7 linked regions of the Homo sapiens genome follow. The protein of the gene in region 2 purifies or fractionates together with the protein of the main gene of each other region. This does not show direct contact. Each region holds a gene or a part of one and is shown on either strand. Other genes may lie near its edges. The genes, in order: MCM6, AIRE, SMC1A, GCN1, TMPRSS13, SDR9C7 and GM2A.

Region 1 (3,500 bases), on a different chromosome or scaffold from region 2:
AAAAAAGGCTACTCCCAGTACGAACAAACATGATAAAATATCAAGAAATTCAACAAGAAACACTGAAAAACATATGAAGAAAAGTTTAAAGCACTACTGAGTGAAACAGAAGACTTAAGTGGAAAGATAACGGTATTTGTGGTACTCAGAACTGTTCACAAATGTTTGCTCTTCTAATTCTGGGCACCTGGTAGGAAGGCATTTCTCTATCCATTTGAACTTAGGAGGGGCCATGTTAATTTCTCTGGCGAATGAAATGTGAGTATGTGTCATTTCTGGATAGAAGGGGGAGAAAGCACATGGCTCACCACCTTCTCTTCCCTGCTTTCTGTCATCATGAAAGCGTATGTCAAGATCAAACCTTTATATCAGCCTGAATCTCTGAGTAACTTGACAAGGTGAGTCCCTTGATGACCTAATGGATGTGTAGCACAAGCAAAAAAAAATTGTTTTATGCAGCTGAGATTTTATAGTAGTACAACCTAACCTATTCTAAGTGATACGTTACTGAATAGGAAAAATCATAGATGTTTTCAATTCTTCAAGTTAATATAAATAGAATGTTATACTGATAAAAAAATACCAGGTTTTTCTTTAAAACAGAGCAAGCTGATTTCTAAGTTCCTAACAGCTGATAGAGAACAATGCGCTGGAACTAGCCCTACATTTAAACTACAAAGCCCCATAGATTAAAACATCATGGTACCAATGTAAGAGGAGCTGATAAGACTCAATGAACAGAATGGAAAGTCCAAAAGGAGATCCTAACACACACAAGAATATATAATTAAGGCATGCCAAACCAGTGTCAAAAAGATGGATTGTTCAATAAATGGTTTTGGAACAACTAGAAAACTAGCTAGGTAAATAATGGGAGAATTTTTTATAATCTTAGAGTGAGAAAGGCCTAACAAAAGTTTTTTTAATGGATGAAGATTATGAACATATGAGACAGAAATAGCTCTTAAATATATGCAGATACTAAATTTCATTCAGAAAATATATTTGTGTATATAATTTATGTGCATATATTTTAATATCATGTGAATCTGCTATTTGAAGACTAATTTTTAAAAATAGAACAAAATAAAAATCAATTAGAGACTGCCCTAAGACATGTACCAGTTTTATGCAACTCATTTCAGGAACTATCACAATGAAAAAAAAAGTACAAATGTTAGCATGGTTTTAGAATGACCTTGTCCCAGGGTATCTTGCCTATCCAAATTCTGCACACCCTTCAGTGACTGGGTTTAAACGTCGGCACCTCCCTGAGTCCTCCTCCTTCTTTGGTAATAAAGTAATTCATCTCAGCACTCTGGTTGTGATGCTCTATTCTCCCTCTCGTTTTTTTTTAATTTCCAACTTATATTTTAGGTTCGGGGGTACACATGCAGGTTTGTTACATAGGTAAACTGTGTGTCATGGGGATTTAGTATATAGATTATTTCATCACCCACTCTATTTTTTACATGCTTAATTAAATACATGTCTCGTTCCCACCAGATTAGCAGCAATGGAAGGCAGGGGCTCTCATTCATTTTTTGTCCCCTACAGGTGTTCCCTAAATATTGGGTGAATCAAAGAATATTAAATAACCTAGTGTGAAAGTACTTCGTCAATAGTAAAGTACCATATCAAAGAATTTGAAAATTTAGTGGAAAAAAGCCAAAAAATTAACCTGTGGGATAAAAGTAGTGATTGAAGTCGGAACAGTGGTTACTTCAGGGGAAGAGGGCTAAGACTGAAAAGAGGCAGGGGTTTGGAACTTTCTGAAATTATGGAAATGTTTTGGATCTTGAGCTGGGTATTCACAAGGATGTATGTGAAAAAACTCACCATGCCATACATTTCCCTTTTTATAAATTATACCTCAGTCACACTGTAAAAAAAAGCCAAACCCCCTTTTCAAAGACGACCTTACATCAAACCTATTAATAAAACTAGGAAAACGCAGGGCTGCTTTGGTTGAAGCGAAGATGGGACGCTTGAATGCCCTTTCGTACTACTCCCCTTTTACCTCGTTAATACCCACTGACCTATCCTCGTGGAATGCAGGGCTCAAAGAACAATCTAAAAATCAAACATTATACAAATGCAACCTAAGGAGGAGAGTTCCTTTGAGGCCAGGGGCTACATTATCTTATCTGTATTGCCAGCGCAGAGGCCTACTAGTACATTGTAGGGTCTAAGTACATTTTTCCTGAATGAAAGGTATTAAATGGTAACTTACGTCTTTATGCACTCTATAAACTATGACGTGATCGTCTCCGTCTAACAACTACACTCAAATGCTTACCAAGCTCTTTAAAGGGAAGAATTCCATGGTCGTATGAGCATTCAACAGTTACATAAAAATGTATTTGCAGTGAATTCTAGTATGTCCCATACCAAAGATTAAAAACATGCAACAAATCTGTTTATCTCTGCTCTCATCATATCAAAGTGACTCTGATACCTCATCACAGCAGTGCATCCGAGCCATAGCTTCAGAGAGACGAATCATGCTCTCAAGCTGTCGCACTGTAATCCTCCATGAAGACTTGGTCACTCCAGAACCATCTCTCTGGCGGAGATGTTTATATTGCTCCACAATGAAGTCCTCTGACTCTTTGGAAATCTGTTTCAGATCATCACTCAAGTTAGAGAAACATTTCTATTTGATGAGAGCTACGGTAAACCTAAGTTTAAGAGCCTTCCAGGTGGAAACATTTAGGGAACCTGAGAGGGTTGAAACTTTGAGAAGCCAGTGACAATAAATTACTATTGTAATGTCTTTCAAAAGAAACTAATATTAAGGAGGCTTGTGAATTCCATGTTACTAATTTTATGAACCTGAAAAAAGGCTTAGTATTTAAGCAAATGACCATTTCTAAAAGCTGCTTAACAAGCTGAAGCAATGGAACAAGATGTAATGTCTTTTACACCTCAGGATGTCAGTGCTCATTAAATAAATTAATGCTCAGTATTTGAGGCTCAATTAATTAACTCACACTCTTTGCAGGGAAAAAAAAGCTGTTTCAATAAACTTTATATCTAAAGGATCCTCAGCTTTTCAGAGCAAGGAATTCACCATATTAAGGAAGCATGCCAAGGTTACAGAGGGATCAGTATATCAGTATGCAGTAATGGAGAACAGATGCTCTTTTTTACACAAGAATCACCCATAATCCTTAGTTTTAAATGATTAAATTTCTTTGGGACAGTGAGAGCCAACTGCAATCTCATGAATAATCAAGTGAAGATGATAAATGATCAATACCTAGTAACACCTTCCAGAAGTCAAGTTAGCCAACAGTGTGAAAATCTCAACCAGAATGAGTATTTTTTTTCCTTTTCATACCCTATTTTGGGAAAATGCCAAGCATTTGGGGGTTTATGTCCAGGTAAGAATCCTGGGTCCAGAACAGAGTTAGTCCAATACAATGCATCAATCACTGTAAAACAGTAATTTATATTTATCATAATGGCCTAGATGAATCCAATGTTTCCTTCAAAGA
Region 2 (4,120 bases):
GCCTGGACCGCTGGCCTTGCAGAAGGTCCCCCGACAGGGAGACTTCAGTGCTCACCCTCCTCCTCCAAAGTCAGCAGAACCACAGGCAGAAACTCTGGCTACCTGAGCAACAGTCCGGTCTGCTGTGGGACCACCAGGATGCAAAGGGGCGTGGTCCTCCTTCCATCTTGGAGCCTGGGTCTCCCCATCAGCCCCATCTCCCCGCCACAGCGTCTACCTGACTCAAACACCTGCTGGATGAGGATCCCCTCCACGGCCCCTCGGGCTCCCGGGACGTCCCCGGAGGACATGGCCACAGCTCTCTGGACTGAAGCTGACATGGTCTGAATCCCTGGGAAAGGGAACACCCATTGGGGTCACCCGTGGGGAAGACTGTTCCCAAGCACATACTCTATGCCAGAAGCAGGCAGCACTGGGCTGCAGAGCCCTTTCCTTCCAGCCAGGGCAGGCCAAGGAGGGGACCCAGCCCTGCCATGTGCAGACAGCCCACAGGTAAGTGCAGAGACATGAGAATGTGTGTGTTCGTGTGTGCACCCAAGTGTGCGTGTGCTGGGGGGTGGCAGTGTCAGCAGAGCTGGCACAATGGATAGGAAGGCATGACCAATGACCAGACCCACCCCCCCATGACATGGGCCCTGTATTGTGCCGGGAGGGACACAGAGTTCCTAGGCTCTGCCCTCAGGGAGATAGGGGGTCTCTGGAGTCCAGTGCCCTGGGAAGGAAGGAGAAGGGGACAGGAAGGGTTCAGCCTGCATGCAGCTGGGGGCCAGGGATGATTTTCTGGAGGAAGCTATGTCTAGGCTGGTCCTGAAGGATAGGGAGTGGACGGGCAGAGAAGGTGCCTGAGAAGGGGGTCCCAGAACCAGGGTGCAGTGGGGGCAGGGGCGACTGGCAAGATCATGCTTAGACCCAAGGTGTCCCCTTCCTGGGTCTGGTGGTGCAGCTTAGGCCCTTGGAATGACACACCAGGCCAGCACGTCCCCAGCCCCTAGGACAGGGTCTCAGAGGGCAGGCCCTGCTCTGACCCCTGACCCCTTGCCCCTGGCCAGGGAGAAGGGAGGCGCTCCCACTGGGCCCCGCTCACCGTTCCCGAGTGGAAGGCGCTGCTGCTCTGCGCTGCTCTCCGGCTTCTTGGGGGGCTTGGCCTTCAGTTGAGAGCCTGAATGGGGGAGCTGGGGGCAGCCTGGCCTCCCCTCTCAGTGGGGGTGAGTGCCGGTGGGCAGGGGCCCGCGGTGGGAGGGCGTGGAGGGGGCGGTCCAGTGCTGGGTAGTCCCTTTGCCGGGCTCTGGTTTCTCATCAGTAAAAGGGAAATGAGACCCGCCCGCCTACTTCACCAGCTCCGGGGAGCTCAGCCTTCAGGCAGGAGGGAGCTGAGAGGCTGGTCCAGTGTGTGGGTCTAGTACCCAGAGGAGACCCCCACAGCCCCAGGCAGGCTGGCCCCACACCCAGTGGGTGGGAGCCCGGGTGGGGAGGGGGCGTGGGCTCCCGGGGAAGCCCGGGAAGACTGGAGACCCTGGCTGGCTTCCCCTGCAGGGAGGGTACCTGGGCTGGCGGTGCCCCTTGGAGTCAGGGCTGCTGGCGCGGCAGCTCGAGCCTCTTCTGAGGCCTTCCTCTTGGTGGGGAGTCTGGGTGGCGGTACCAAAGCCTTGGGGACGGCCGGGGGCTTCCTCCCCTTCCGGGGCTGGCTGAGGTCCACATCTGCAGCTCAGGGGCAGGAGCAGGGTCCCAACCTCAGGGTTTTCTCCAGGGGTAGGGTGGGCCCCAGAACTGGACACCTTGGCCAGACAGGTGAGGCCTGGCCCCTTTGCCTCTTAGGATCCAAGACGGTCCTGGAACATCACCCACGGGCTCCTCAAACACCACTCCGGTTCCAGTCCAGCTGGGCTGAGCAGGTGACAGCAGCTGCCCCAGGCCCCCAGCATGGCTGAGTCCACCAGGACCCACCTTTGGGGAAGCTGTCCAGGATGGGCTGCAGCCGGCCATAGCGCTCCAGGTTGTAGTCCTTGAACAGCACCCTCCAGAAGTCCAGGATGGCTGTGGAGTCCTGGGTCAGCAGCCAGGACAGGAGGGCGTGGAAGGCCTGGGGGCAGCCCTCCTTTTCCTTCAGATGAAGCGTCTCCTGCAGTGGGGTGGCATGAGGGTCCCTGCCATGGTCCCCCACACCCTGCGGCCTGCCCATCTCCATCATGACTAGAGGGTGGAGCTCCCAGGCAGAGGCGCTGGCGACCTGGACAGCTCCACGCCCATCTCCTCGGCTTGTGGTGGAGTCAGGTGGTGGTGTAGGGGTGTTGAGGGTGGGGCTGGGGGAACCTGGAGGCCATTCCCTTGGCTTGGGGGTGAGGTGTGGGGACGGCTGGGGGAAGGGGACCAACTTCTAACTTGTCATCAGGGACGCCCCTGGCTCCTTGTGGGGAGGGAGTTGGGGAAGGCTGGAGGGGCTTGGGGATCTGGAGGGGCGGGGTCCTCCTGGAACTTCCCCGGGGACTATCCCTGGCTCACAGGGCCTGGGGGCAGCGGGGGGCGGGCGGGGAGCCCACCTGAAACTTGTCCTCGGGGACCACGTCGTGGTCAGCCAGCGCGTGCAGCAGTGGGAAGGCGCTGTCCACGGCCACCGCGATCTCCGTGCGGTGCAGCCTCAGAAGCCGGCGTAGCGCCGCGTCCGTCGCCATGGGGTGGGCGCGGGGACCCGGGGCTGGGGCGGACGCGGTGGGTCCCGGGACACTGGCAGCCCCTCGCTTGGCCTCGGGTCCCGGCGGGGCTGTGGGGCCTCCGCGCCGGCTGTGCGCCCGCCCGTCTCCCCGGTCTGCGAGCCACGCGCGCCGCTGTTATACCCCCGCGACCACGCAAAGAGCAAAGGCCGCTCCGCCCCGGCGCCCAATCAGGGCCAGGGCCTCCCGCAGGGACACTTCCCTGTGATGGAGGCGCTGCTGTCCCTCCCTCGCTCTCGGGAAGTCTCCGGGCCTGGCCTGACTCACCCACCAGGGCAGCTGCCTTGGGGGCTGGGGACAGAGACTCGCTCTGTGCGGGACTCAGAGAACTCTCACTTCCGAATGTGGCCCTGTCCTGCCTCGGCGAGGGCCCTGCTCGAATGGGGCAAAGCCGAGACAGGTGCCCTCGGCGGGGAGGCTCGGGTCTCAGGGCCCTGGCAGGGGCTGCCCAGGGTGCACCGGCCCCTCCCAGTGGCCGGCAAGAGCCTCCATGGAGGCTGGATCGGGGTGGTGTTCCTGGGGGACCTCCACACAAGCTGAGAGCCCCTACTCAGGGGCCCGCCTGGGGCTGTGGGAGGAGCCCGATGGAGGCTCAGTCTGATGCAGGAGACGGTACGGCAGCCTGGGTGTTGCCAGGGAGCTCCTGACCTCACCATCTTAGGCTAGCTGTGTGACGCCAGGCAAGTCCTTTCCTTCTCTGAGCCTCGGTTCCCTCATCTTTAAAAGGGGCACACTCGCCTGGGGATTGAGGCTCGCATTGACCCCCTCCTTCCTTCCTCCAGGTGCTTTAGAAGGAAGGCGGCCAGCCCCACAACGGGGGTCCTGAGTGTGGCCCTGAGTGAGAGCTCCCAAAGGGTCTTCCTAGGACCAGTGACAGAGGCTGAGGGATGCTGTGGCCTGGACAGGAGCTTCCGGGGGCATCTGGGAAGGTGTCCGGGAGGGGAGCTGCAGTGGACAGGAGCCGAGGGTCCCAGGTGGACGTGAGTGGGGACAGTGCCCCCAGTAAAACAAGACCAGGTGCAGAGGCCTGGGGCCTGCAATGATGCTGAGGCTGTGGTGGCCCCGCAGGCATGGCCTGGAGGGGGGGTGGCCTCAGTGGGAGGCCTTGGTAACAGTCCCCTTGTCTGTGCGGTCAAGCCAGGGAAGCAGGCCCTGTGTGCAGGCTGCAGAGAACCACGAGAGGTCTCTGGGCACGAGTGTTCCCACTGAGCCAGAGAACGAGATGACCTGGCCAGCATGGATTAGGGCTGAAGGGTGGACGAAGGTACCAGGAAGCCTGAATCCAGGCAGCACTGGGCTGGGGGCTAACTGATGCAGTGAGAGACGCCACCAAGATTCCCACGTGGGCAGGCGTGCCGTTTGCTTTTGGGCAGCCAGAGTCCAGGATGGAGAGCGGCAGACACCTCTCCTCT
Region 3 (3,500 bases), on a different chromosome or scaffold from region 2:
ACTGGCAATCTTAGGGACTATTTTTCCTTTAAAAAGGGTCTGTGTATTACTAAAGTTTGAAGACACTACATAAATAATGTTACAAACGTAGCATGATTTGCTAAATTCCCACTTTCCAAGGGGCACTGAGTAGTTTCCAATTTGGAACTATAAATAATGCTTGTTATAAACATCAAAGTGTTTGCATAAAGCTTTGCCAGCATTTTGGATGATCTCCTCAGGTACTACTGAGTTACAGAGTATAAATGCATTGTGAAGCTTCTTGAAGGATGGTGCCACATTACATAAGAATACTCGTCTCCTGGCCAGGCACGGTGGCTCATGCTTGTAATCCCAGCACTTTGGGAGGCCGAGGCAGGTGGATCATGAGGTCAGGAGTTCGAGACCAGCCTGGCCAATATGGTGAAACCCCGTCTCTACTAAAAATACAAAAATTAGCTGGGCGTGGTGGCAGGCACCTGTAGTCCCAGCTGCTTGGGAGGCTGAGGCAGGAGAATGGCATGAACCCGGGAGGCGGAGGTTGCAGTGAGCTAAGATAGTGCCACTGCACTCCAGCCTGGGCAACAGAGCAAGACTCCATCTCAAAAAAAGAAAAAAAGAATACTGGTCTCCTATACCATGGCTGGTATTGAGCATTGTGTCTTCTGTTTTTACATTTTCCACGATGTGTTACAAAATACATTGTATCTAATTGTTGCTTTAATTTGCATTTCTTTAGTAAGACTAAATTATTTGTATGTGTTTAGGGACTATTTGAAAGTCTTCTTGAACTGTTTGTGACATTTATCCATTTTTCCCGTTTAGGTCTTGGTATTTTTCTTATTGATTTAGATGAGAAATTTCTAAGTTGTGGACATTATCCTTCTGTCTGTCGTATTTCTTCCCATTTTTCCTCCCAGTTATTAGTCTGTCTTTTAATTCTTTCCTTCCTTACCTTTTTGAGCTTTTCTATCTCATTTTCATCTTTTTTCACTGTCTGCTCCCACATGTGTACTTTATCTTGGTCCTCCTTCAGTTGGTTCTTTTCAAAATCCAACTGAATGCCCAAGCGAGTCTTCTGATTCTCAAACTCCAAACTGTGTATAAAGGTGGGGGGAGAATCACTCATAATCTCATCAGCCAGAGATAACCAATGTACAAAATCCAACTATGGGAAGAAAGGGAAACTAGACCCAGGGCTCAGGGACCCAGAGTTACTGATTTTCAGTCACAACTTGCTTCATCCATCCATATGCACATAAAACGGTCCCCTGAAGCTGAAGAACTAAGTTCCTCAGCCTAGCCCTGTGGACATGGCATAAGGCAGGGAAGATTCGGCCAAACCTTATTTATCCCCCTTTAAACAATGAAGACCCCAGCGCCCTCCAAGTTCCTACAAGGAGGCATAAAAGAGTCCATCTGATTCTACCAGCTATGGTAATTCCTATTAGGCTTCTATGTACTTTACATACATTATCTCTAATCCTCTAATCAACAGCTCTGCAAGTAGGCATTATTATCCTAATTTTACAAATGAGGAAAACTTAGGCCAAGAGGTAAAAGACCTTGCCCAAGGCCACACAGCTAGTAAATGGCACATGTGAGACTGAAACCCAGATTTAACACCAAAACCCGGGCTCTTTCTAGTATACCACCACTGCAACATAATGTAGTGGATTAAGAAGACTGGCATCTCAACTCTGCCACTTACTAGTAATGTCATTCAGGCAAGTTGGTTATACTCTCCAGACCTGTTTCCCCATCTGCAAAATGAACATAATAATAGTACCTACCTCAGGGTTATTGGGAGATTTTTAAATGAGTTAATATGTATAAAGTCCTTAGAACCACACCGAGTCCACGATAACTACTCAATCAATTTTAGTTACCATTATCACCAGGTATATTGACTGTACTCAGCTTACTTTTGTCCAAGGGCTTCAACTACAGCATCCCAACTTCTGCCCCAAGGTCCCAGAACCTCTTAAAGGGCAGAACTTGGATAGTACAAAAACATGGAGAAAATACTGGATTCCTGCTATTGTCCTCCTCTCCATCTCTTCAGAAACTCAAGAGTATGCAACCAGCATACACAGGCACTGGCAGGCCAGGCAGGACTAACTTCCAATTGCCCTCTCCAACTCCCAATATGGTGTGACAGATGTTGCCAGATGTCATGCTAGCAGCTTAAACCTATTAGCCACTATAATCCAAATGAAATATAACTAACTCTATAATTTTGAGCTATGCAATTTTATATCCAATCTCCTAAGTATGACTCACAAAGGCCTCTGTGATCCGGCCCCTGCTGACCTCTCCACCACTCCCCACCTTCTTCCTGACCCTGCTTTTATGCTCCAGACATTAAAAACTACTTAGTATCCAGAACAAGGCATGCTCTCTCACACTTCCAAGCATGCTGTTCTCTCTGCTTGGAATTCACTTTTTCTGTCGCTGCCTGGCTGGCTAAATCCTACTCACTCTTCAGGTCTCCAGTCATCACTCCCTGTTTTGTAAAACCTTTCCTGACGGTTCTGAGCAGGTTCCTAGTTTCTATTACACTTTGTTGGGTTCCTCCCTTTTTAGACTTTAGGTGCAGAAGCAAGTTAATCATATCCCACAGTTCATAACACACTTATCACCACTGCCTGGGCAAGACCCTTCCCTTGTCCTCTTTGTTTCAATCCCCAATTTCCATTCCCATTACCTTCCCTACTGTGAACATGCACCACAAAGTGACATACACACATGCATTCCTTAAAAATGCATATCCTTGTAAAATGTCTTAGTTCTAAAATTTACACAAATCTACTGTGTTATAAATTTTATTCTTTTTTCTGGTCAATACCAGGTTTATAAGTTATCCATTACTGCCCACAAATCTAGTTCTTGCTGTGAACTCCCACACAGTATTCCAGTCTATATATTCATTTGACTTATGCTCCCCCAGTAATGGCCATCTACATTGCCACCAATGTCCCACTACTACAAGTTATGCCAAGATGAATGACACTGAATGTGTATCTCTTTGGGACCCTATGGCAAGACTCTCTCAGGGATATATACCCATAGGTTTTATATATGTGTATATATATACATTATATATATACACATATATTTTTTTCACATACTACACAGGACATCTATAGATTTCCACCTAATACTGTCAGACTTTTAAATTTGCATTTCTCTGATTAAGAGGTTAGACCTCAATTCCTATGGTCATTAGCCACTTGAACTTCTCTTTCCATGAAAGCCTATCTATATTATTTGCCACTTTTTTTTTTTTTACTTTTTTCATTGCATTGGGTATCATAAGTACTTAGCCACATTTCCATTGGGTTTCTTGTCATTGTTTTTTATTTTTCCTGTTGTTGATTTGCAGTTCCTTGAAAATTTCTTCAGTATTTTGTATCTACCTTAATTACACCATTGATCACACTGTCCTCAAATTGATGTTTCCCCCAGTACTCTATATGTTTCCTGAGGAAAGAAATACAGTCTGATTCAATTCTATATCC
Region 4 (3,500 bases), on a different chromosome or scaffold from region 2:
TTAAACATTACACAGCCAGCACTTCACTTAATTATAGAAAACCCCAGTGTGTATGCATATGGTAATCATCCTTGTAATAGCAGTAATAACTGTATTTACATAGCATCTTTCTTCTTAGGAAGGCTGAATGTTTCATATTTATTATCTCAATTACTATCAACAGCCCTGTGAGGCAGGGAGGGGCGGGAGGGGCAGGAGGGGAGGCACCTGCCCCCAGCCACCAGGGAAGCCGGCTAGAGACGGCCACTCTGAGCTCCTTTCTCCCACAGAGTTTGTGTCATCTTGTGGCCAGAATGACTCCTGCTATCTCCCTACTGCATGAGTGCCCCACTGCCACCGAAATTACTTGGGTTCATCCTAGGAAGTCAAACTAAAGCCACTAATCAAGCCAAGGAAGATAAGGAAAGGCAAGCACTTCCTGTTCAAATCAGAGCCAGGTACGCGAGCGGCTCCGTGCTCCTCCCTGGCCAGCTAACTATGGAATACCAAGAGAGGATTTTAAGTTATGTTCCTTATTACAGGTGCCAACTCAACATGTCCCCAAAACAAACCACCAACCAGGGACTCAATAACCCAAAAAGCTAATGCCAGGCTGGCACCCTGAACTGCCACCTTCAATCTGAGTGGAGGTTCAGAGGGTAAGAGAATGGACTGCCAGCAGTTTGGGCCTCTGAGCTCGAAGCAGAAGCCCAGGTGCCAAGCTAAAGCTGGCTCTGACACCGACTCTCTCCAACTTCATCTATTTTAAGCTGCACTGTGGTAAAATGCAAATATGTTTCAATACTAACTTTTGCTTGCACTGTACACATGACTCTGTAGAAGCCCTGAAAGACTGTGACCAAGACAGCAGACTTTCCTGTCTGTCCCCACAGAGAAGGCTGGGGCTGGAGTCCGACAGCTGGCGCCTGGGGACCAGAACTAGGCCTTTGGAGCCATGGGAAGTGCAGCAGCAAGTGTGTGTGTTGCAGGTGTGGGCAGGAGGAGTGTGTGTGGGTGTGTGTGTGTGTCAATGACGTGTAAAACCATGTGAGCCCAAAGGCCCTCTCCTCCTAGATTGGCCCTACAAAGTAAATTAGACCACAACAGAGGGCTGTCTGAAAAGGGAACAGAAAACTCTTCTCCATAGACTCAACTCCCTACTGGCCCCACAGTGCTCGCAGCCAAATATTTGACAGATGCTTCCAGACTAGGTGAGGCTGATGGAACTGGGACAGAACCAGGAGTCCAGGGCTTCTGGTTTGGACTCTACTACTTGCTGGGTATGGCCCAGACAAGTCTCACCCTCGAAAATAGACCTCTAAGACTTGCCACCGGGACACACCCTGGAGACCATTTATCCCACTACACACTAAGTTTCTTGAGGTCTGTGACCACGAGGTCTATGCACCTCTGGGATAGGCCCTTTAGCTCGGCAAATGTTTCACAAAACAATAAATAAACCTCTTCATTTTACAAAAGTGGAAATGAGAGGCAGACAGAGAAAGTGACTTCTTTAAGATCAGAGAGCAAATAGGTGAGAGGTCTGGGTCTCTACAAAGCTTACTTGCCTCATCTATAAAATAGAAATAACCGGCCGGGCGCGGTGGCTCATGCCTGTTAATCCCAGCACTTTCGGAGCCCGAGGCGGGTGGATCACCTGAGGTCAGGAGTTTGAGACCAGACTGACCAACATGGTGAAACCCTATCTCTACTAAAAGTACAAGTATTAGCTGGGTATGGTGGCGGACACCTGTAATCCCAGCTACTCGGGAGACCGAGGCAGGAGAATCGCTTGATAGGAGGCGGAGGCTGCAGTGAGCCGAGATTGTGCCACTTCACTCCGGCCTGGGTGACACAGCAAGACTCAGCCAAAAAACAAACAAACAAACGGAAATAACCAATATATCCACAATACCTGCCCCGTTTCCCTTGAAACCCGAGGAAATGTTGGTGAAGCATACAGGGTGATAGAAATGTCAGGAATGCTTATTACTACTGAGCTGTACTGGTTCTAACACAAAGTGAAGAACTCAACCTAAGGAGGAGGAGGGAAACCAGTGGTCCAGTGCTGCCACTAGTCCTGCCTGCAGCCGTACCTCATCGTGTCCCAGCATGCTCAGCAGGAGTGAGACGATGTTTTTCCGGATGACGGCATCCACTTTGGCCCCTGCTCCCTGAATCACAAACCTCAGGGCCTGCAGCATGGTGTCCCTGCAGAAGCAATGCACCGCCTTAAGCCCTGGGTGCCTCCACCACCACCCCTCCTGCCAGCGCAGGCTCGGCCCACAGCAACCCCTGGCCTCCTGGAGGCCACAGTGCTCCCTTGCCAGCGCCGTACCTGACACCTGGGTCCTCCATGGCGCGGATGCCATTGAGCAGCTCTGTGAAGAGGGGGTCCACCTTAATGTGGATGGAAATGAGCTTCCCCAGAGCATCTGCGGCCTTCAGGCGCACCCCCCGGTTGGAGTCCTGCAGGGCTTTGGTGAAAGTGGTCTGCAGCTGGGGCAGGAAGGGCTTCAGGGCAATCCCAACCTGTGGGAGGAACCCACATCCATGAAAGACAGTTGTGGTAGACCCAAAGCCACAGTGTACCACAGGCATGAGAACAAATGACAATCCCAAACCACCACAGCGAGTCCAGCTCTCATACAGGGCTGGGGACAGATAGCCCGTCAGAGAGGCCAAACACAGACAGGTTTCGCTTGGCCTCCTGGTCATATCCAGCATGCTTTGATACACTGGAGGAGCAGGAGGCCGAGGAGGCGGCGGCCGCTATCTGAGGGAGCTGTCTCGCAGCCTTGGCTGCGTTGGGGTTTGGCTTAGTGGAGACCTGTCCATATCGATAAGTGACTCAAATCCTCCTCTGAATACATTAACAAGCAGGGCAGACTATCGGCAGTACTGAAGCACAGTTCTAATGCCAAGACAGGGAAAGGGACTCAGTGTATAATTGCAGAGCCCATCTACTGAGCAACTGACAGCAGGATACGCACTCCACATTCAGCCCTCAGAACAAGCCTGTGAAACAAATGACCTTGGAGAATCCTCCCTGCACAAATGTGTACCCACCTAACTAAAAATCCAGTTCAACCCCTGACTATACAGAAACACAGGCACACTTTTGATACAATACAGGTGGGTCCAAGAGTAAAGATTTACTTACTGTTTTTTGTTTTGTTTTTTTTTTGAGACGGAGTTTCGCTCTTGTTGCCCAGGCTGGAGTGCAAGGCGCGATCTCAGCTCACTGCAACCTCCGCCTCCCGGGTTTAAGCAATTCTCCTGCCTCAGCCTCCTGAGTAGCTGGGATTACAGGCACCCGCCACAATGCCCGGCTAATTTTGTATTTTCAGTAGAGACAGGGTTTCTCCATGTTGGTCAGGCTGGTCTCGAACTCCCGACCTCAGGTAATCTGCCCACCTCGGCCTCCCAAAGTGCTGGGATTACAGGCTTGAGCCACCACGCCCGGCTTACTTATTGTTAATTAGGAAAACCAGAGTGACTGTTTGGAGGTTCAGTGCCAA
Region 5 (3,500 bases), on a different chromosome or scaffold from region 2:
GGCTGTCACTGCTACCACCTGGCTATGCCTCTGCAGCTCCCAAGGGTCCTCACCCAAGGCTTGTTCAGGGCCCTCCAGACGTGTTGGGGCAGGAAGGCAGGGCAGGGGTCCGCAGGAAAGCGGTAAGGGACAAGCCAGGGAGGGCTAAAAGGAGCAGCCCCTGGCTCTGGGAGTCTTTCCAAAGCCTGTCCCTGGACAGAAGTCTATAAGCATTTTTACTCCCACTTTACAGACTGAGAGGTAGAGGCCCAAAACATTTGTGTGCTTTGCCCAAAGTTGTTCAGGCCCATCTCACAGCAGAGGAGGGACTAAACCCAAGGCCCCCCACTTCCAGCCCAGGGGTCTCGACACCACAGCTCCCAGGGTTAGATCCCCCCTGAGGCGAATGGGATGTTTTTCTGGTTTCCAGTTGCAGACTCTGCCCCTTGGGCCGTTACCTGGTGGGGATGGTAGTAAGTTAGCCAGCCCCTGAGTATGTCCAGCTCTTGTCCTCTCCTGGACCTTCTGGGGGCCCAGCCAGTGAGAGAGGGGGCCTGAGTGATGTGGGCTCATGGTTGCTTCATCTCAGTGGTTATGGAGCTGCTGCTGTGGATCGAGCCCCAGGCTCTGCATAATGAGAGTTCTTCAGCCATAAGCAGCAGCCTGAACTTGGGAAATATGCACTTCAGGTCCCCCAGAGCCTGGGCTTGCAGTGTGAACCACCCTATAAAAAGCTCTCCCGCAATTGAACAATGAGAACACTTGGACACAGGATGGGGAACATCACACACCAGGGCCTGTCGGGGAGTGGGGAGACGGGGGAGGGATAGCATTAGGAGAAATACCTAATGTAAAGGACGAGTTAATGGGTGCAGCACACCAACACGGCACATGTATACATATGTAACAAACCTGCACGTTGTGCACATGTACCCTAGAACTTAAAGTATAATAATTAAAAAAAAAAAAAAAAAAGCTCTCCTTCTAGTCCTGAAGAATGTCCAGCAGGGAGCAGTAGCTGCTTCATGGCCTGAGGGCGGGTGCATCAGGGCCCGTTTCAGTCCAGTTTAAGCCAATTGGGCCTCCCTCCTCAGCCCTGGGCCATCCCTTCGTAAAGCTACCACCCAGGGTTGGGCATATCACAGGCTGTCAGAGTTGCAAAGATTCTGAAAACCCTCTAAGCTGGGCGTGGTGGCGCCGGCCTGTAGTCCCAGCTACTTGGGAGGCTGAGGTGGGAAAATGGCTTGAGGCCAGAAGCTGAAGACCAACCTAGGCAACATAGCAAGACCCCATCTCAAAGAAAAGAAAAGAAAAGAAAAGAAAACCTACCCAAGCCCTTTATACTATTGTTGAGGCGATGAAGGCCCAGAAAGGCTGTGTGACTTGCTCACGGACACACAGCCAGGTGGGGACGGTGCCAATTCTAGAACCATGATCTTCTGGCCCCCATCCTTGGGCTGTTACACAACACTCTGCTCTTCCCCTCTCTGTCCCTTACCAGCCTCCATGAGAAAGGACCCTTCCCAGACAGAGGCCCCCGTGGCAGCGTCCCTTTTCCAGTGACCCTGGGCATCAAGGGCGCCCATAGGGTGGGCACGGGCAGACCATGGGCCAACAACCCAGCACTCTGGGCTAGGCAGGAAGAAAAACCCCTCACTAAACCCTTCTGGAAGCACTGGCGGCACTGAGAAAGATCAGGATCTCCCTTTGACAGAGCCTAAAAACCCTCCTTGCCTGTTGGGAACCTGGGGAGCCCTGGGGTTGTGGCAGGGGAGGCCTGAACCCTTCCCAGCGAGGGCCCGGCTGGACTGGGTGACTTTTTTCCCTTTCTCACGGCTAGACCCAGGCTTCACTGTACCTCCAGGTTCCCAAGGCCCTTTCCTACTCTCCCCCTCCCCGAACCCAGAGAAACCCCACAAATACAGGCTCTCCTCAGCACACAGGCATCTTCCCCACCACCTCCTCACCCAGCACCAGCATCTCCAGCACACACGCAGTATACAGCTCAGGGACTTGGGTCAGCCCTTGAGGCAGACTGAACTCTGGAAGGGGCCAGAGCTGCAGGGTCTGCCTCGCCCTGGGGGTGGGGGGCACGGGGAGCCTCGCTTCTGCTCCTAGGCCGCCGTGTGACCTTGGGGACAGTCACATCCTTCTCTGGGCCTCAGCTCCCTCTTCAATAAATTAAGGGTGTTGGACAATCAGCAGTTTTCAAACAGGGTTCCACAGAGCATTTCAGTTTCCGTGGAGGTGCCTTGCAGACCAGCTGGTGGGGACTGTGGTGGGCTCTGAGCCCTTACCCCACCTCAACAGAGAAGACCGACCTTTCAGTTTCATACAGCGGAGTCAACATAACATTCATTTGAACAAAAGAGGCAGCTGCTACAACGAACTTGAAAGGGACTGGCCAGAGTAAGTGCTGAAGTCCCTTCTAGTTTCCGATGCCTCCTGTGCACATGAAAAAGCTCAAGGAATCCCTGTTAGACCAGAATCAAGACGCCTCCTTGTTCATTCATTCGTTCATTCACTCATTCATTCATTCATTTATCAAATGCTGTAAAGAACATGGAGTGCCCACTATTGCCCAGCAAATAATGTTTGATTGCCCAGGAACTTGCTGCCTCAATGTTTCCCTGTGTCTGTGCCTTCTCTTGCTGCCAGTCCTAGGGTAGTGACACACTCAGGGCTGGTACATAATGGGGGCCCCTCTAAAGTTTTGGGTATTGCTTCCCTCCTAGGGAAACCAACCCCCATCTGGTGCTGTCAAGGCCTCCACTTGACGGCTAAAGCCAGGGTTCCCTGTGGTGGCTTCCCTCATGCCTGCACCACCAGTGCCCTGCCCACTTGGCCAGGCACATCCACCCTTGTTGTTGCTATACCAAGAGGAATCTGTTCTGCCAAAACAAGACACTTAAGCTAAGTGGCCATTGTTACATCAGTTGTCCTTCCCACCCAGCTCCCCAGCCCAGGGCCCAATACACACACTCCCGCACGCTTACGCTCACATCTGCCAAGTCTCAGGGGACAATGCAGGGGAAATCGAGGTGGCTGTGCCAAAGGAAGTCTGCTCCTCACCAATGACAACATGAAACAGAGGACAAGGTGAGGGCTGCACACCTGCAGGGGCACAGGGCAGGTACCAGGGTCCTTGGAGGACGAGGTGAAGGCTGCACACCTGCAGGGGCATAGGGCAGGTGCCAGGGTCCTTGGAGGACGAGGTGAGGGATGCACACCTGCAGAGGCATAGGGCAGGTGCCAGGGTCCTTGGAGGACGAGGTGAGGGCTACACACCTGCAGGGGCATAGGGCAGGTGCCAGGGTCCTTGGAGGACGAGGTGAGGGATGCACACCTGCAGAGGCATAGGGCAGGTGCCAGGGTCCTTGGAGGACGAGGTGAGGGCTACACACCTGCAGGGGCATAGGGCAGGTGCCAGGGTCCTTGGGGTGCCTGGGGCTGGGATGGGGCTGGGACACGGCATGGCAGAGTGACTTGACCCGCGGGTGAGCCATCTCAGGAACTGCCCA
Region 6 (3,500 bases), on a different chromosome or scaffold from region 2:
CTTTTCTGCTTAAATAATTTGCATTGGATCTTCTGTCACTGAGTAAGTCCCAACTAGTGTAAATCCTTAGACATTTTCTTCTCACAGAATCCTAACATGTCTAGCACTAAAAGATGAATTTATCTAAGGAGTACTCCAAACATTTTTCCCTGAGACTTCCCTAAATCAATGAATGAAGACACCTCCATTCACCATGTTCTTCAAGCTGTAAAGCTAACACTCACCCTTGATAGCTTCCTCTCCCTCACCCCTTAATCCTCAGTGTGCTTTGATGCTCTAATTTATTCCGTATACCCCAGCTACCTCCCATTGCTTCCCACCTGCTGGTTTCTTTAAAGTTCCTCAAATGGAGTTTTCTGCCTCAGAGCCTTCCTGCAGAAAAAAAGTCCCTACGCATCCCCTCTTTCCCCTTCCCAGCAACACCTAACTCTTATTCCTCCTCAAAGTCAACTCAGAAGCTCTCCCCTTCACCATAGTCTGAATTGGGACCGCAACTTCCTGCTCCATTCTTCTTTCACAACCCTGTTTCTCCTCTGTAGCACTTATCCACATCTACCATAAACACATGTGTTTTGATTTATGTTTGTCTCCCCTACTGGGCCATAAGCTACAGGCAGTGAAGGGCAGGCATACTGCTGTGTCCGCTCCAGCTCTCCAGCCCCACACAGGCTTGGGACATGGCAGCCTTGCATGCTTTGTATTACTGATTCAAAACAAAAACAAAAAACAAAAATGCAATAAAGTGTGTATGTATTAAGTGAAAAAAATGGCTGACTTGGCTTTGTGCTCTGTTGACGTACGACATCCAGCAGACAACTTTCGTGGCAGAAAGTTTTGGGGCAGCAGGGTAAACAGCTGCCGTGTCCCACCTCTACCCTCCAAAAACACCTATGATTCACAGGAGACCCTCAGCTCAGGGAAAGAAAGAGAGTTGCCTAGAGACCCTCCCTTTTAAATCCCCATGTGCTCATTTTCTTCTTTATTAACAAGCACTCAGAATGTGCAAAGTACTTCACACATACTAACCCTCATAACAACCCCATGAGGGAGGCACTATCTTTAGCTCCATTTTGTAAATAAGAAAACTGAGGCATGGGAAAACTAGGTAATAGGTCCAAAGTCTCCTAGCTGGTAAGTAGTAGAGCCAGGATTTGAACCCAGGCAGTCCGGCTCCAGCAGCCATGCCCTTGATCTCTTTGCTGTATTTATCTCAGTGCATTTTCACCTGATTCCCCTGCATCATGATGCTGTGGGGGCAGGTGCCAGGAGTGGGCTGAATTGCCCTTAACTCCCCGGGCTGCTCCAGAAGTGATGATTCTGCCACTTGCTCTCTATTCTCAAACCCCAGCTGTGCCACTATGTGACCTTGGGTCCTGAACTCCTCTGCATTTTGTCTCACCATCTGTAAACGGAAAGCCAGCTAATGACCCCAAGACCCACTCGCCCCCCTCAGAGACCCCTCTCCTGCCCCAGGAACTTACAGATGCGGAAATAATCCTCTCCGTAGCTGTCCCGGGTCTCCTGAGGCAGCCTCTCCCAAAGCTTTCGCATGCGTGACTCCAGGTTCTCCTTGCCGAGAATGGCTGTCCGATAGTTCCCTGGCTCAATGATGCAGACTTTCACCCCAAAGTAGTAGAGCTCACGCCTGGGAAAGAAGAGTTGCAGTCAGTCTGGGCCCCAAGATGACAATCATCACGGAGAGTCACCTCTGGATGGGCTGGTCTTTCAGGAACCTAGAGATGCTTCTCTCACCCCTGTACTTGGCCCTGGCATTGCCTTTGTGCAAATAAGCCCTTCCTTAGGGACTCAGCCCTTTCCAAAACTGGCCCAACAGTCTCTGGGCAATTTGCATTAGGCACAACCAGCGGGAAGAAGTCAATAGAGAATCTAGGCCAAAGCCTTGCCTCCCACCAGGTCCCTCCCATTAGCAACCCCTCACTCAACACCCACACGGTGAATGGTGTGGATATACACAAGGCCTGCACGCTCCTCTAAGGACCTCCCAGAGGGGACCTGTGCCTCCAGGCCTGTCTGTCTGTTTGGGGGACTCTCCCTCCTCTCACAGGCCCAAACAGGGTTTCACTCACCCTGGTGCCGCTCAAGGGAAGGCCCACCTGATGCCTTGTATTTCCACCCTACCTCTTCTCCTCATCCCTGCTCTTGGTCCTTGGAGAAAGCACCTTGAGGTCTAACCTTCCTTCTGCTATTGTGTTAGCTTCCTGTCTGCGGAATTCCCCTGCCCACATGCTGTCACTCCCAACCCTCTCTAATCTCTGGGATTTTCACCCAGAATTGTTCAGTACCAGGGCCCAGTTACCTTATGCTGTCAGAGAAGGCCTCAACGCCAAACTTGGAGACGCAGTAGCCACCACCAATGACAGCCACACGACCACCAGAGCTGGACATGTTGACAACCCTGCCCCGGGCTCTCTTGACCATGGGCAGCATGTGAAGGGTCACTTCGATCAGTCCCACCAGGTTCACATTAATCACCTTCACAAAGTCATCCTTGGTCAGCCATTCGTTGGGACCACTGGGCAGGCCCACACCAGCATTGTTCACCAGGGCCCAGAGGCCTGGGGGTGAGATGAACCACACAGAAATCATCAGTGGGCCTGGGAAAGAACCAAGTTCTGCTCCCCACCGGCTCAGTGCCCTCAAGGATGGTTGAGCAGGTGCACAAGACATAACTCGGTCAGGCTATAACATAAAAGGAAGGTGTGTCTTTTACTAACTCGTTTTCCCTGAAGGGACACTTTTTCCTGATTCACATAAAGTCTGCCGGCTAGCTGGCGCTCTGTACTAGCTACAATCGAGGTGTTAGGTGACAGCATTTCAGCTATCAGCTTTGGGATAAGAGTTTCATTTTCATACCAATGAATTAATGTTTAGATCCCTTCCCCATCATACTTCTCCCTCTCTATTCACTTAAGTATAACCAACTGCATTTCACATACTACCAAAATCAATCCATTCATTCATTCATCTTCACACATTTATTCATGCATTTATCTAGTCTGTGACAATTACAGGGTGAAGGAGGCCAGGTGCAGTGACTCACACTTGTAATCACAACCCTTTGAGAGGCTGAGGTGGGAGGATCACTTGAGGCCAGGAGTTTGAGACCAGCCTGAGCAACAGAGTAAGACCCCTGTCTCTACAAAAAAAGAAAAAAAATTAGTCAGGCGTGGTGGTATGTGCCTGTAGTTCTAGCTACTTGGGAGGCTGAGGTGGGAGAATCACTTGAGCCCGGGTTACAGGTTACCTTGTTCGAGGTTACAGTGAGCTATAATGGTGCCATTGCACTCCAGCCTGGGTGACAGAGTGAGACTCTGTCTCTAAAAATAAAATGAAATAAAACGATATAAAATAAAATAAAGTAAAATACAGGGCAAAGGAGACATAAAATGAACAACACAGCATCTTATCCCTCAAGGAACTCACAAGCCTAGAAGGAAATAATAATATTTATAAATAAATATATAAAATATTTAAATAAA
Region 7 (3,500 bases), on a different chromosome or scaffold from region 2:
TGTGATCTGTGATAGTTTCTTTTGTCAACCTTTTTCTTCTTCTCCTTCCTTGCTGCCTGATTGTCCCCAGCCATCCCAGCTCAGTAGCTTTTCCTGGGATAACTGTGATGAAGGGAAGGACCCTGCGGTGATCAGAAGCCTGACTCTGGAGCCTGACCCCATCATCGTTCCTGGAAATGTGACCCTCAGTGTCATGGGCAGCACCAGTGTCCCCCTGAGTTCTCCTCTGAAGGTGAGCCTGGGGGTGGGTGGAGAAGGGGAGGTGCGAGGGTCTGGCCAGCAGGGGTACTGGGGCATGTATGCTTGGGGAACTGTGAAGAATTTCAGAATCCTGGATTCCCAGAGAATAGTACAGGACATGTAGATTCAGACACTCTTTCACAGGTTCATGGAATCTCAGGATCATAAGATTGAAAGGAATCTCTGATGTCAGCGCCAGCAACTTCCTGGTGAGGGCAGGAGTGACGGATACCTTGCACCTGGCAGAAGCGTCCTGGCCTTCTCTGGGCCTGGTGGCCAACTGCTCATTATTGTCTGACAGCTCTGGTTGGCCAATTTGGTTTTGTTGTTAATTATAAAATTGATATACCAATTAGCCAGTAATATATAGTCACTTTAGAAAACACAAGTGGTCAAAAAATAAATAAAATAGGCCAGGTGTGGTGGCTCATGCCTGTAATCCCAACACTTTGGGAGGCTGAGGTGGGTGGATCTTTTGAGGTCAGGAGTTTGAGACCAGCCTGGCCAACATAGTGAAACCCCATCTCTACTAAAAGTACAAAAATTAGCTGGGCGTGGTGGCATGTGCCTGTAATCCTAGCTACTCAGGAGGCTGAGGTAGGAGAATTGCTGGAACCCAAGAGGCAGAGGTTGCAGAAAGCCAGGATCGCACCACTGCACTCCAGCCTGGGTGACAGAGTGAAACTCTGTCCCAAAATAAATAAATAAATAAAATAAATCACTTGAAATCTCACTACCTAGTGATAAGGGATAAGCACTTTTAACATCTTATAGGATATTCTTTGCAACTTTCCCCCATACAATTACATACATAACACACATATTTATTTTTAATGGATATGTATGATAATAGGCAGTGCTCATTGTAAATGTCCTCCAGTAATCTAAATCCTAGAGATAGTCAGTGTTTGCTCTTTATATATCCCATCAGAATTTTTATGTGTTTGTAAATATATACACACTTATACTCATGGGATTATATGATATGTGCTATTATACTTGCTATTTTTTTTGCCTCATACTATATGTCCATATCTTTCCAAGGATTAGGTGGCTCTACTTATTCAATTTTTTTTTATCCAATCATTATTTTATTATTTTAATGTATTGTAATTTTAGAGACAGTGTGTCACTCTGTTGCTCAGGCTGGAGTGCAGTAGTGTGATCATGGCTTACTGCAGCCTTGACCTCCTGGGCTTAAGGGATCCTCCCACCTCAGCCTCCTGAGTAGCTGGGACCACAGGTTCATGTCACCATGCTTACCTAATTTTTTTATTTTTTATGGAGACGGAGCCTCCCTGTGTTGCCCAGGCTGGTCTCAAACTCCTGAGTTCAAGCAATCCTCCTGCCTCAGACTCTCAAAATGTTGGGATTATAGGCGTGAGCCACCTTGCTCAGCCCACCCAATCATTTTTAATGGCAGAAATATTCTGATGTGGATCTTTCATAATTTATATAACAAGTCTATTGTTGAACATTTAGTTTGTTTCCAGGGTAGTTTTTATTTGTTTGTTTGTTTATTTGTTTGTTTTGAGACAGGTTCTTACTCTGTTGCCTAGGCTGGAGTGCAGTAGCGCAATCTCAGCTCCCTGCAACCTCCACTTCCCGGGTTCAAGCGATTCTCCTGTCTCAGCCTCCCAAAGTGCTGGGATTACAGGCACCTGCCATTGCGCCCCACTAATTTTTGTATTTTTAGTAGAGATGGGGTTTCACCATGTTGGCCAGGCTGGTCTTGAACTCCTGACCTCAGGCAATGTGCCTGCCTCGGCCTCCCAAAGTGCTGGGATTACAGACACCTGCCACCATGCCCAGCTACTTTTTGTATTTTTAGTAGAGATGGGGTTTCACCATGTTATCCAGGCTGGTCTTGAACTCCTGACCTCAGGCAATCCACCTGCCTCAGCCTCCCAAAGTGCTGGGATTATAGGCTTGAGCCACTGTACCTGGCCAGAGGGTTTTTTTTGTTTGTTTGTTTTTTGTTTTGCTGTAGTAACCACCTTTGTAGAAATTATTCTTATAGTACATCTTTTTATAATTTTCTGATTCTCTAGATACACACTTTTTAGGTCTTTTGATACATTTTGCCAAAGTGCCTCCCAATGTTTGAATAAACCTGCATCATTCCTAGTGAGCGTAGATGTCTATTCATAAGTTTATTTGCCTTTTGTATTTACTTTGGGAATAACCTGTTTGTTTCCATCCATTGACTATTTTAGGGGTGTATGTTTTTATATTTTCTTAGAAAACAATGAAGACTTTTCATATATCCATTGCAACACCATTTAATATGGTCCTTTCCTCTCTAGCTAAAATTGCTACCTTTATATGATGCTCCTCTATGCCCTTCAGTCTGTTCCTGATCCAGATCTATTCTAGTACCAGTTTTGTGTTAATTATTTAGAAGATTCCTGATTTGGATTCTGTGTTTCTATCATTATCCTTAGACCTGTCTTAATCACAGCTCCTACGTTATGGGCTTTCCTTGAGCAATACCTGAGTTAGAAAATCATGTGGAAAGTGCTTTGCACAGGGCCTGGCACCCAGGACATGCTCAGTACATTTTATATCTTGTGAACATTTCGATTAGTATCTGTCTTATCCTGCAGTCTCTTGACCCAGACACAAGTCCTGGATATGTGGCAGCTTTCAGCTCCCCTGCACCTCCTACCAAGCCTTTTCCTAGCAGAGTCATTGTGTTTCCATTACTGTTCCTCAAGTGATAGGGGGTCAAGCCCTGTACCCTTGGATCTGGGCCAAGGGATGGAATCATTCCCTATGTATGGACACTGGACTGTTTCTCTGCCAGGGTCACACACATTTATTTGTGTGCTCCCTCTGCTGATCTGGAGTGTGGGCTCTCCTGGTAGGCCGTCCGCCATGCTCCCTCTGCTGCCATCACCATGCAGCCACTGGTGTTTCCAGGGAGGGGGCTATGCAGCTGACTTGGAAACAAGAAGCTGGCAAACCCGCTCTTCTGCCCTCAGCCTGCTTTTCCTGGCTTCTTCACAAACCATTAAGATGGGTTTTACTCCCTATTCTCCTTTTCCATTGCTTTATTACCTTTCATAAATTTGGGCCTACATAATCTCCTCTGTCTTTACTGTCACTTGTGCTTAGGAAAAATTAGCCTCAGATCCCCTCTGCTCCTTCTTTTTCCCCAATTTCTTTTTTTTTTTTTTTTTTTTTGAGATGGAGTTTCACTCTGTTGCCTAGACTGGAGTGTAGTCGCGCGATCATGGCTCATTGCAACCTCTGCCTCC

The links.
Region 1: the proteins of AIRE (region 2) and MCM6 purify together in Homo sapiens (affinity purification with mass spectrometry, with the first as the bait; one study listed by BioGRID). This does not show direct contact.
Region 3: the proteins of AIRE (region 2) and SMC1A purify together in Homo sapiens (affinity purification with western blotting; one study listed by BioGRID). This does not show direct contact.
Region 4: the proteins of AIRE (region 2) and GCN1 purify together in Homo sapiens (affinity purification with mass spectrometry, with the first as the bait; one study listed by BioGRID). This does not show direct contact.
Region 5: the proteins of AIRE (region 2) and TMPRSS13 purify together in Homo sapiens (affinity purification with mass spectrometry, with the first as the bait; one large-scale study listed by BioGRID). This does not show direct contact.
Region 6: the proteins of AIRE (region 2) and SDR9C7 purify together in Homo sapiens (affinity purification with mass spectrometry; 2 studies listed by BioGRID and IntAct, with this or other methods). This does not show direct contact.
Region 7: the proteins of AIRE (region 2) and GM2A purify together in Homo sapiens (affinity purification with mass spectrometry; 2 studies listed by BioGRID and IntAct, with this or other methods). This does not show direct contact.

What each region holds. Positions count from the first base shown.
Region 1 is NC_000002.12:135,848,944-135,852,443, forward strand, and holds part of MCM6 (DNA replication licensing factor MCM6), read right to left. Parts: intron 2,621-3,500; coding exon 2,459-2,620; intron 1-2,458. UniProt on the Homo sapiens protein: Acts as a component of the MCM2-7 complex (MCM complex) which is the replicative helicase essential for 'once per cell cycle' DNA replication initiation and elongation in eukaryotic cells.
Region 2 is NC_000021.9:44,284,556-44,288,675, reverse strand, and holds the start of AIRE (autoimmune regulator), read right to left. Parts: upstream 2,801-4,120; 5' UTR 2,670-2,800; coding exon 2,538-2,669; intron 2,120-2,537; coding exon 1,945-2,119; intron 1,699-1,944; coding exon 1,543-1,698; intron 1,160-1,542; coding exon 1,085-1,159; intron 332-1,084; coding exon 218-331; intron 1-217. UniProt on the Homo sapiens protein: Transcription factor playing an essential role to promote self-tolerance in the thymus by regulating the expression of a wide array of self-antigens that have the commonality of being tissue-restricted in their expression pattern in the periphery, called tissue restricted antigens (TRA).
Region 3 is NC_000023.11:53,398,655-53,402,154, forward strand, and holds part of SMC1A (structural maintenance of chromosomes protein 1A), read right to left. Parts: intron 1,077-3,500; coding exon 935-1,076; intron 1-934. UniProt on the Homo sapiens protein: Involved in chromosome cohesion during cell cycle and in DNA repair. Central component of cohesin complex. The cohesin complex is required for the cohesion of sister chromatids after DNA replication.
Region 4 is NC_000012.12:120,132,216-120,135,715, forward strand, and holds part of GCN1 (stalled ribosome sensor GCN1), read right to left. Parts: intron 2,512-3,500; coding exon 2,318-2,511; intron 2,191-2,317; coding exon 2,076-2,190; intron 1-2,075. UniProt on the Homo sapiens protein: Ribosome collision sensor that plays a key role in the RNF14-RNF25 translation quality control pathway, a pathway that takes place when a ribosome has stalled during translation, and which promotes ubiquitination and degradation of translation factors on stalled ribosomes.
Region 5 is NC_000011.10:117,922,903-117,926,402, forward strand, and holds part of TMPRSS13 (transmembrane protease serine 13), read right to left. Parts: intron 1-3,500. UniProt on the Homo sapiens protein: Serine protease. Cleaves the proform of PRSS8/prostasin to form the active protein. Cleaves the proform of HGF to form the active protein which promotes MAPK signaling.
Region 6 is NC_000012.12:56,927,909-56,931,408, forward strand, and holds part of SDR9C7 (short-chain dehydrogenase/reductase family 9C member 7), read right to left. Parts: intron 2,577-3,500; coding exon 2,318-2,576; intron 1,646-2,317; coding exon 1,482-1,645; intron 1-1,481. UniProt on the Homo sapiens protein: Plays a crucial role in the formation of the epidermal permeability barrier.
Region 7 is NC_000005.10:151,259,685-151,263,184, forward strand, and holds part of GM2A (ganglioside GM2 activator isoform 1 precursor), read left to right. Parts: intron 1-70; coding exon 71-232; intron 233-3,500.